Regions from separate parts of the Homo sapiens genome. Here all the other regions are linked to region 1. The links come from fine-mapping of genetic effects on gene expression. A gene starts in region 1. Each other region holds a variant in brackets. All regions are shown on one strand. Distances are from middle to middle.

Evidence for each region. PIP is the estimated chance that this variant, and not a neighbour inherited with it, causes the effect.
Region 2: its variant is fine-mapped to the expression of NPL in whole blood (INTERVAL, PIP above 0.99).
Region 3: its variant is fine-mapped to the expression of NPL in whole blood (INTERVAL, PIP above 0.99).

The regions. Positions count from the first base shown.
Region 1 is chr1:182,788,316-182,791,083 of GRCh38, forward strand. It overlaps NPL (N-acetylneuraminate pyruvate lyase), which reads left to right and starts at 1,458. Exons shown (of 13, transcript NM_030769.3): 1 at 1,458-1,490. RefSeq lists an enhancer at 1,111-1,611.
Region 2 is chr1:183,151,936-183,154,703 of GRCh38, forward strand. No RefSeq gene overlaps it. Among named protein-coding and RNA genes, the nearest start is that of LAMC1-AS1, 12 kb to the left of the region's middle. The variant A/AT (reference allele first, on the strand shown) is at 1,410.
Region 3 is chr1:182,934,486-182,937,253 of GRCh38, forward strand. All of the region lies in intron 5 of SHCBP1L (SHC binding and spindle associated 1 like), which reads right to left. Among named protein-coding and RNA genes, the nearest start is that of SHCBP1L, 17 kb to the right of the region's middle. The variant T/G (reference allele first, on the strand shown) is at 1,650.

The sequences.
Region 1 (2,768 bases):
TTATACAAAAAGTAGTTAGTTCATGCATTTAGAATATTGGTTTGTTGGTTGACAATGTTAAGCCTAATGACCTATACCTTTTGGGTACTGACATACTTAATTTTGCACTTATTAAACTGTGACTTTCCAAAAAAAAAAAAAACTTTCATTGTACCATTAGGATATAATATTCTTGTTAATATTACAAAAACCAAACCAAAACAAAAACCATGCTGCAGCCTTAGGAGAACTTGCTTCATGTAACTAAGGGTTTTTCTTTTTCTTTTCTTTTTGTATTTTTTTTTCCTGTAGGATAACATAGTGTTAAAAGCACAAGCTTCTGGACTACTTGAAATCAAACCACAGCTTAACCAGCTCTATGGCTTTTGGCAAATTACTTCAACTCTTTAAACCTGTTTCTGATCTGTAAAATGGAATGATCCTTGCTCATCTGTAATATATACATTTATAAAACAGGACCCACCAATGGGATTATTTTATGAATTAAATGTTAAAACAGCTAGAACGGTGCAGGCTGAGTAAGCACTGAACACAGTACTTATTAGCTATTATCTCTGGTGCTCTGTGCAACGAAAGAACTATTAGAATACATTTAAAAGCACTTTGCAAACTAGAAAGCCCTTTGAACAATTTAGTTTCTCTAAATGTAATAATAAGCATCAGCCATCGCCTTTTATGGAAAATTGAGGTGGAATCACATCAGCAAGAGAAAACTGAGGACTTGTCTCTGGCTCTGTTCCTGATTTATTCACACAGTACATGATCCTAGAATAAGACTCCTGATACTCCTGAAAGTAGAGGCGGTTGGGTTAAAAATAATTTTCCCTTTCAAAACTCTTTCAAATGTTCTCCAAAAGAAGCCAGGAAAGCTCCCGTATGAGTAGATAATTCACTTTAAAATTCGCTCATCTCTCTTTAACACGAGAGTCTGCAGGGCTGGTGCAGCGGCGTCAACCCGAAGAGACCTGAACGCCGATGGGCAGTTGGGATTCTCCGTACGCCTCGGAAACAGCAGCCCAAACCTCACAACGCAGAACCACGAGATAGTGGGGATTGCAGAGCCCTGCGCAAGAGAAGGAAAATTAAGACGCAGCGGAGCCCAGGAGGTGCCCGCACGCGGGAAGGACTGGCGTGCAGACGAGGCAGGGGGAGGTTTGCACTCGGCGTGGCGCGGGTGAGCCGCGTGCTCTCGGGCACCCGGCCGCCAGTTCGGATGCTTCCGATCCTCGGGGAGCCGGGGCGCTGCGCCGGAGTCACTTCAGCCCATGTTGTTCAGGTGACACCCGGGGAAGAGCAGACTCCAGTGTGCAAAACGTTTCGGGGTTTCCGGGCCAGCGGTTCCGGGCGCGCCTCGCGGGCGGCGGCGCAGAACTACAACCCCCAGGCTCCCTGGCGTGGCGGCACGTGGGCCCGAGCCGGGCGGCCGCGGATATAAAGCGCGGCGGCGGCTGCCGGGCGGAGCGGCTGCACGGACAAGAGCGGAGGCCTGGGTGAGCGCGGCCCGCGACGGCACGGGCTAGGACAGACGGACGCAGACGGCCCGACGACCTGGGCGTTCGGGCGGAGGGGCGCTGGGGCCTGACTCGCGGGTGGGTGAGACGTTGACGGACCCGGAGGAAAGAGGGAAGGCAGATACGCTGGGAAACGGATCTGGGGAAGGTGTGAATGCGAAAAGTGTAGGGACAGACGGGGGCAGAAGAACTTACTCCCCCGGATTGTTTGCAGACAGCATATCTGCCGGGTCTCCAAAGGTCCTTTCCTCAAAATAGAGTTAGCAATTGAGCAGAAGAGAGCTTAAAGTTAAACCTGATACATCCCCCCTTCACTTGAGGAGAAATTGGTGGTTTTCTGCTTTTTTAAAAATCCCTATTTGTATCTCCTCTTCTCCGAGTACCTGTCCCTCAAGATATTCTCTGCCCAGAGGTACATTCTGCCCTCACTTTCTGTCTCTTAAAAAAACAACTTTGCCATTTAAAAAAGAATTTGACTTAGGCAGCTTTAATTCTTTGCACTGAGTGTTCTTATCTGTGGATGGAGGTATAAGATTTCAAGAGTAATACCCCCTCCCAATGTTTCAGTAATAATCTAAATTCACATTAAGCCTTAGGCTGGAGAACATTTGAGCTATTCGCTTTAGCTACGAGCTCTGAAAACTTCAAAGCATAACATTCCCAAGTTTATCTAAAACTTGAATCTTAAAAATAATGATAATTATCTGTTATGCTTCAAAGCATAACATTCCCAAGTTTATTAAAAACTTGAATCTTAAAAATACTGATCATTCTCTGTTAAAGTCTTTTGTTGTTGTTGTTGTTGTTGTTGTTGTTGTTGTTGTTGTTGTTTTTGAGACGGAGTCTCGCTCTTGTCGCCCAGGCCGGACTGCAGTGGCGCTATCTCGGCTCACTGCAAGCTCCACCTCCCAGGTTCACGCCATTCTCCTGCCTCAGCCTCCCGAGTAGCTGGGACTACAGGCTCCCGCCACCACGCCCGGCTAATTTTGTATTTTTAGTAGAGACGGGGTTTGGCCATGTTGGCCAGGCTGGTCTCGAACTCCTGACCTCAGGTGATCCGCCCACCTCGGCCTCCCAAAGTGCTGGGATTACAGGCTTGAGCCACCGCGCCCGGCCAAAGTCGTTTTTATCCCATTTCTTCCTGTAGGCGTTTCAAAGTTTGCAAAGGCAGCAAACTTTTACGTAGTGTAGTTATCTGTGCAAAGAAATTTTCCAAGCTGCCATTGCCCCCAGATGGCAGACAGTCTAGGAGAGGAG
Region 2 (2,768 bases), 360 kb after region 1:
CTGAGCGCGGTGGCTCACTCCTATAATCCCAGCACTTGGAGAGGCTGAGGTGGGTGGATCACCTGAGGTTAGGAGTTTGAGACCAACCTGGCCAACATGGGGAAACCCCATCTCTACTAAAATTACAAAAATTATCCAGGCGTAGTGGTGTGTGCCTGTAGCCCCGGCTACTCGGAAGTCTGAGACAGGAGAATTGCTTGAACCCGGGAGGCTGAGGGCAGTGAGCTGAGATCATGCCACTGCACGCCAGCCTGCACGACAGAGCAAGACTCCATCTCAAAAGAAAAAAAAAAAAGAAGAGGAAGACAGAAAAAGACATCAGAGTGATGCAATGTAAGAAGGACTCTGCACCATTGCTGGTTTGAAGGAGGAGGAAGGGGGCACGAGCCAAGGAATGTGGGGCAGCCTCTAGGAGCTGGGAAGGGCAAGGGAATGGGTCTTCCCCAGAGCCTCCAGATAGAATGCAGCTCTGCTGACACCACGATTTTAGCGCAGAGATCCCCATCTGACTTTTAACCCACAGAACCATAAAATAATAAATGTATGTTCTTTTTTTTTTTTTCGAGACAGAGTTTCACTCTTGTTGCCCAGGCTGGAGTGCAGTGGTGTGATCTCAGCTCACGGCAACCTCTGCCTCTCAAGTTCAAGCGATTCTCCTGCCTCAGCCTCCCAGGTAGCTGGGATTACAGGTGCATACCACCATGCCTGGCTAGTTTTTGTATTTTTAGTACAGACGGGGTTTTGCCATGTTGGCCAGGCTGGTCTCGAACTCCTGACCTCGGGTGATCCACCTGCCTCGGCCTCCCAAAGTGCTGGGATTACAGGATTGAGCTACCACATCTGGCCCTTTGTGTTCTTTTAAGCCACTAAATTTTAGGTAATTTGTTATGACTGCCGTAGAAAACTAATATACCATTTGCCTCGATAATATCTTTTATAGCAAAAGAAGATCCAAGATCATGTGTTGTGTTCAGCTGTCTTGTCTCCTTTGTTTCTTTTAGCTCCTGATCTTTCTTTGCATTTCATGACATTGACATTTTTTTAGAATAAGGGTAGTTATTTTGAAGAATGAGCCTCGATTTTCTTTGTCTGATGTTTTCTTTTGATTAGATTCAGATTATAAGCTTTTGGCAGGGAGATCACAGAAGTGATGCTGAATTCTTTTTAATAATACATTGACTGAATCAGGAGGCACATAAGTCATTACTGGCAATGTTAACTTTGAGATTTGATTAGGGTCGTGTCTTCCAGGTCTCCATTGTAAAGTTACTCTGTTACCTTTTGTAATAAATGTGTATTTTGTGAGAAGATATTCTGAGACTATATAAATATCCTGTTACTCCCCACATTTTTGTCCACCAGTTTTTGTATCCAGTGATGATGGCTACTAAATGGAGATTTTCTAATAC[A/AT]TTTTTTGTTGTTGCTGTTTTGTTTTGTTTTGTTTTTGAGATAGAGTCTGTCGCCCAGGCTGGAGTGCAGTGGCATAATCTCGGCTCACTGCAACCTCTGCCTCCCGATTTCAAGCATTTCTCTGCTTCCGCCTCCCAAGTAGCTGGGATTACAGGCGCCCACCCCCACGCCTGGCTAATTTTTGTATTTTCAGTAGAGACGGGGTTTCGCCATCTTGGCCAGGCTGGTCTTGAACTCCTGACCTGGTGATCCACCCGCCTCGGCCCCCTAAAGTGCTGGGATTACAAGTATGAGCCACAACGCCCAGCCTATATGTCATATATTAATTGGCATTATGCTGGAGGTAAAGCTTTTGCTTCTCCCTTATTCATTTACTTACATATTTATATTATTTTAGATTCATGGGGTCTTATTTTATTTAATGGGGTACAACATATTGTTCTTGATTTTTATTTTGATTTCTAATTGTCCCGTATTTGACCAGTGGGAGCACTTTTTATTTTGTTTTTAATTGACACATAATAATTGTACATTATTTGTGGGGTAGAGAGGGAAGTTTCGATACATGTGTACAATGTATGATGATCAAATCATGGTGTTCAGCATATTCATCACCTCAAACATTCATCATTTCTTTGTGGTGAGAACATTCAGCCCCCTCTTTTCTAGTTATTTAGATATTTAGAAATATACACTATAATATAATTTACTAGAGTCACCCTATTGTGCTATAGAACACCAGAACCTACTCTCATCTAACTGTAATTTTGTACTCTTAACCAATCTCTCCCCATCTGCCCCTCTTCTCTCCTCTCCCCAGATTCTGGTAACCACAATTCTACTCTATACTTCTGTGAGATTATCTTTTTTAGATTCCACAAATGAGTGAGATCATACTGTATTTGTCTTTCTTTACCTGGCTTATTTCATTTAACACAGTGTCCTCCAGCTTCATCCATGTTGCCAAAAACGACAAGATTTCATTAGTTTTATGACTGAGTAGTATTCCATTGTGTATATACTGTATACCACATTTTATTTATCATTTCATTCATTGCTGGATACTTTGGTTAATTCCATATCTTGGCTATTGTGAATAGTACTGCAATAAACATGGAAGTACAGATTTGTCTTTGACATACTGATTTTATTTCCTTAAAGTATAGCCCCAGGAGTGAGATTGCTGGATTATGTGGTAGTTCTATTTTCAGCTTTTGAGGAATCTCCATGCTGTTTTCCATAATGGCTATACCAATTTACGTTCCTGCCAGCAGTATGTAAGGATTCCTTTTTCTCCACATCCGCAACATCATTTGTTACGTTTTTGCCCTTTTGATAATTGCCATTCTAATTGGGGT
Region 3 (2,768 bases), 150 kb after region 1:
TTCTTCGGTAAGGTGTCTATTCAGATCTTTGCCCATTTTTAATTGGGTTGTTTGTTATGTTTGAGTTTTATGAGCTCTTTGTATATTTTAGATACAAGTCTATCAGATATGCATTATGCAAATATTTTCTCCTAATCTGTGGCTAGTTTCTTCATTCTCTTAATAGTGTATTTTTCAGAGCAGTTTTCAATTTTAACAAAGTCCAACTTATGACTTTTTTCTCTCACATAACATACAGTATTGTTGTGGTACCTAAAAACCCACTGCCAAACACAAGATTATCTATAATTTCCTATGAGTCTTATAGTTTTGAGTTTTATGTTTAGGTTTATGGACCACTTTGAGTTAATTTTTGTGAAAGGTCTGTATCTAGGTTCACGTTTTTGGATATAGATATTCAATTATTCCAGCACCATTTGTTGAAGAGAATATCCTTTTTCTATTACATTTCTTTTGCCCTTTGTCAAGTCAGTCTACTCTATGTGTGGATCTTATGGACTCTCTAATCTGGACTATATAAGGACTCTATTTATGGACTCTATTTCCTTTCACTGTTCTATCTGTCTCTTCCATTAATCTATTCTTTGACTTATACCATACTGTCTTGATTACTACAGCTTCATAGTAAGTCTTAAAATCGAGTAGTATGAGTCCTTCTACTTTTTGGCTATTCTAGGTTTCCTGCCTTTCCACATGAGTTTTAGAAACAGTTTGCCAATATCTACAAAATATTTTGCTATGAATTTCACTGGGATTGCACTGGATCTACAGATCAAGTTGGGAAGAACTGACATTTTTAAAATATTGGGTCTTCCAATCCAAGAACATAAGATATCTCTCCATTTATTGTCATCAGTGTATTGTAGCTTTCTGCATTATAGGTCCTATATTTTGTTAGGTATATACCTAAGTATTTCACATTTTTGGTTCTATTGTCAATAATTTTTAAAATTTAAAATAAATTGCTCACTGCTGGTATATAAAAAAGCAGTTGATTTTTGAATATTAACCTTGCTTCCTGTAAACTTGCTATACTCATTTATCGGTTTCAGGAGTTTTGTTCCTTTTTGATTCTTTGGGATTTTCTACATAGACAATTATGTCATCTGCAAATAAAGATAGATTTATTTCTTCTTTTCCAGTTTGTAGGCCTTTTGTTTCTTTTTCTTGTCTTATTGCATTATTTAGAACTTCTAGTATGAAGGTGAATAGGAATGGTAAGGAATTGTTACATCTTCCTGGAGAACCAAACCCTTTATCATCATGAAATGTCCCTTTTTGTCCTGATAATTGTCCTAGTTCTTAAAGGCTGCTTCATCTGAAATTAATATAGCCACACCAGATTTTTATTAATTAGCATGAGCATGAAATATCTTTCTCCATCCCTTTACTTTGAACATATCTGAACCTTTATAAAGTGGGTTTCTTACAGATCACATATAGTTGGATATTGTTTTCTTAAATCCATTTTCATAATCTCTGCTTTTTTATTTAGACCATTTACATTTACAGTTATTTTGACATAATTAACATTTACCATATTGTAGCTGGTTTCTATTAATACAGAGGTTGCACTTGTCCTTTGTTTCCTTTTTCCCTTTCTTTTCTGCCTCTTCTAGTGTTTTGGTTGCTTTTTTGTTTTTTGTTTT[T/G]TTTTTTTTTTTTTTTTTTGAGACAGAGTCTTATTCTGTCACCCAGGCTGGAGTGCAGTGGCATGATCTCAGCTTACTGCAACCTCCACCTCACAGGTTCAAGTGATTCTCGTGTCTCAGCCTCCTGAGTAGCTGGGATTACAGGCATGCACCGCCACAACTGGCTAATTTTTTTATTTTTAGTAGAGATGGGGTTTCACCATGTTGGCCAGGCTGGTCTGGACTCCTGACCTCAGGTGATCCACCCACCTTGGCCTCCCAAAATGCTGGGATTACAGGTATGAGCCACCACACCCAGACCTGCCTCTTCTAGTTTTAATTTAGCATTTTATTTTGTTCCATTGTATCTACTCTCTTAAATCAATTATACTTCTTTTTTTAAAAAATTAATATTTGCCCTAGAGATTGCAACATATATTTTTAACTAATTTAAGTCCACTTTCAAATAACACTATACTACTTCACATGTCATGCAGATACCATATAACAGAGTATTCCAATTCTATCCTCCCATCTTTTATGATATTGTTTCATTTATTTCAGTAATCCATGAGCTTTAATTACCTAATGAATCATTACCACTATTATGTTAAATAGCTATCTTTTAGATCAATCAACAATAAGAAAAATAGAGGCTGGACACAGTGGGTCACACCTGTAATCTCAGCACTTTGGAGGTCGAGGTGGGAGGATCACTTGAGCCCAGGAGTTTGAGATCAGCAAGGGCAATATAGTGAGACCCTGCCTCCACAAAAATAAAAATAAAAAAATTAGCCAGGCATGGTGGCACACACCTGTGGTCCCAGCTGCTCAGAAGACTGAAGTGAGAGGATCACTTGAGCCTGGGAAGTCGAGGCTGCAGTGAGCCATGATCACGTCACTGCACTCCAGCCTGGGTGACAGGGCAAGACCCTGTCTCAGAAAAATAAATAAATAAAATAATAATAATAATGATAATAAAATAATTTATTTTACCTTTATTCCTTCTCCCACATTGTTCCTTACTATATGTAGACATGAGTTTTTCTCATTTTTCTTTTCCCTGAAGAACTTCCTTTAACCTTTCTTGCAGAACAGGCCTACTAATGATAAACTCTCAGTTTTGTTTGTTTTGTTTTG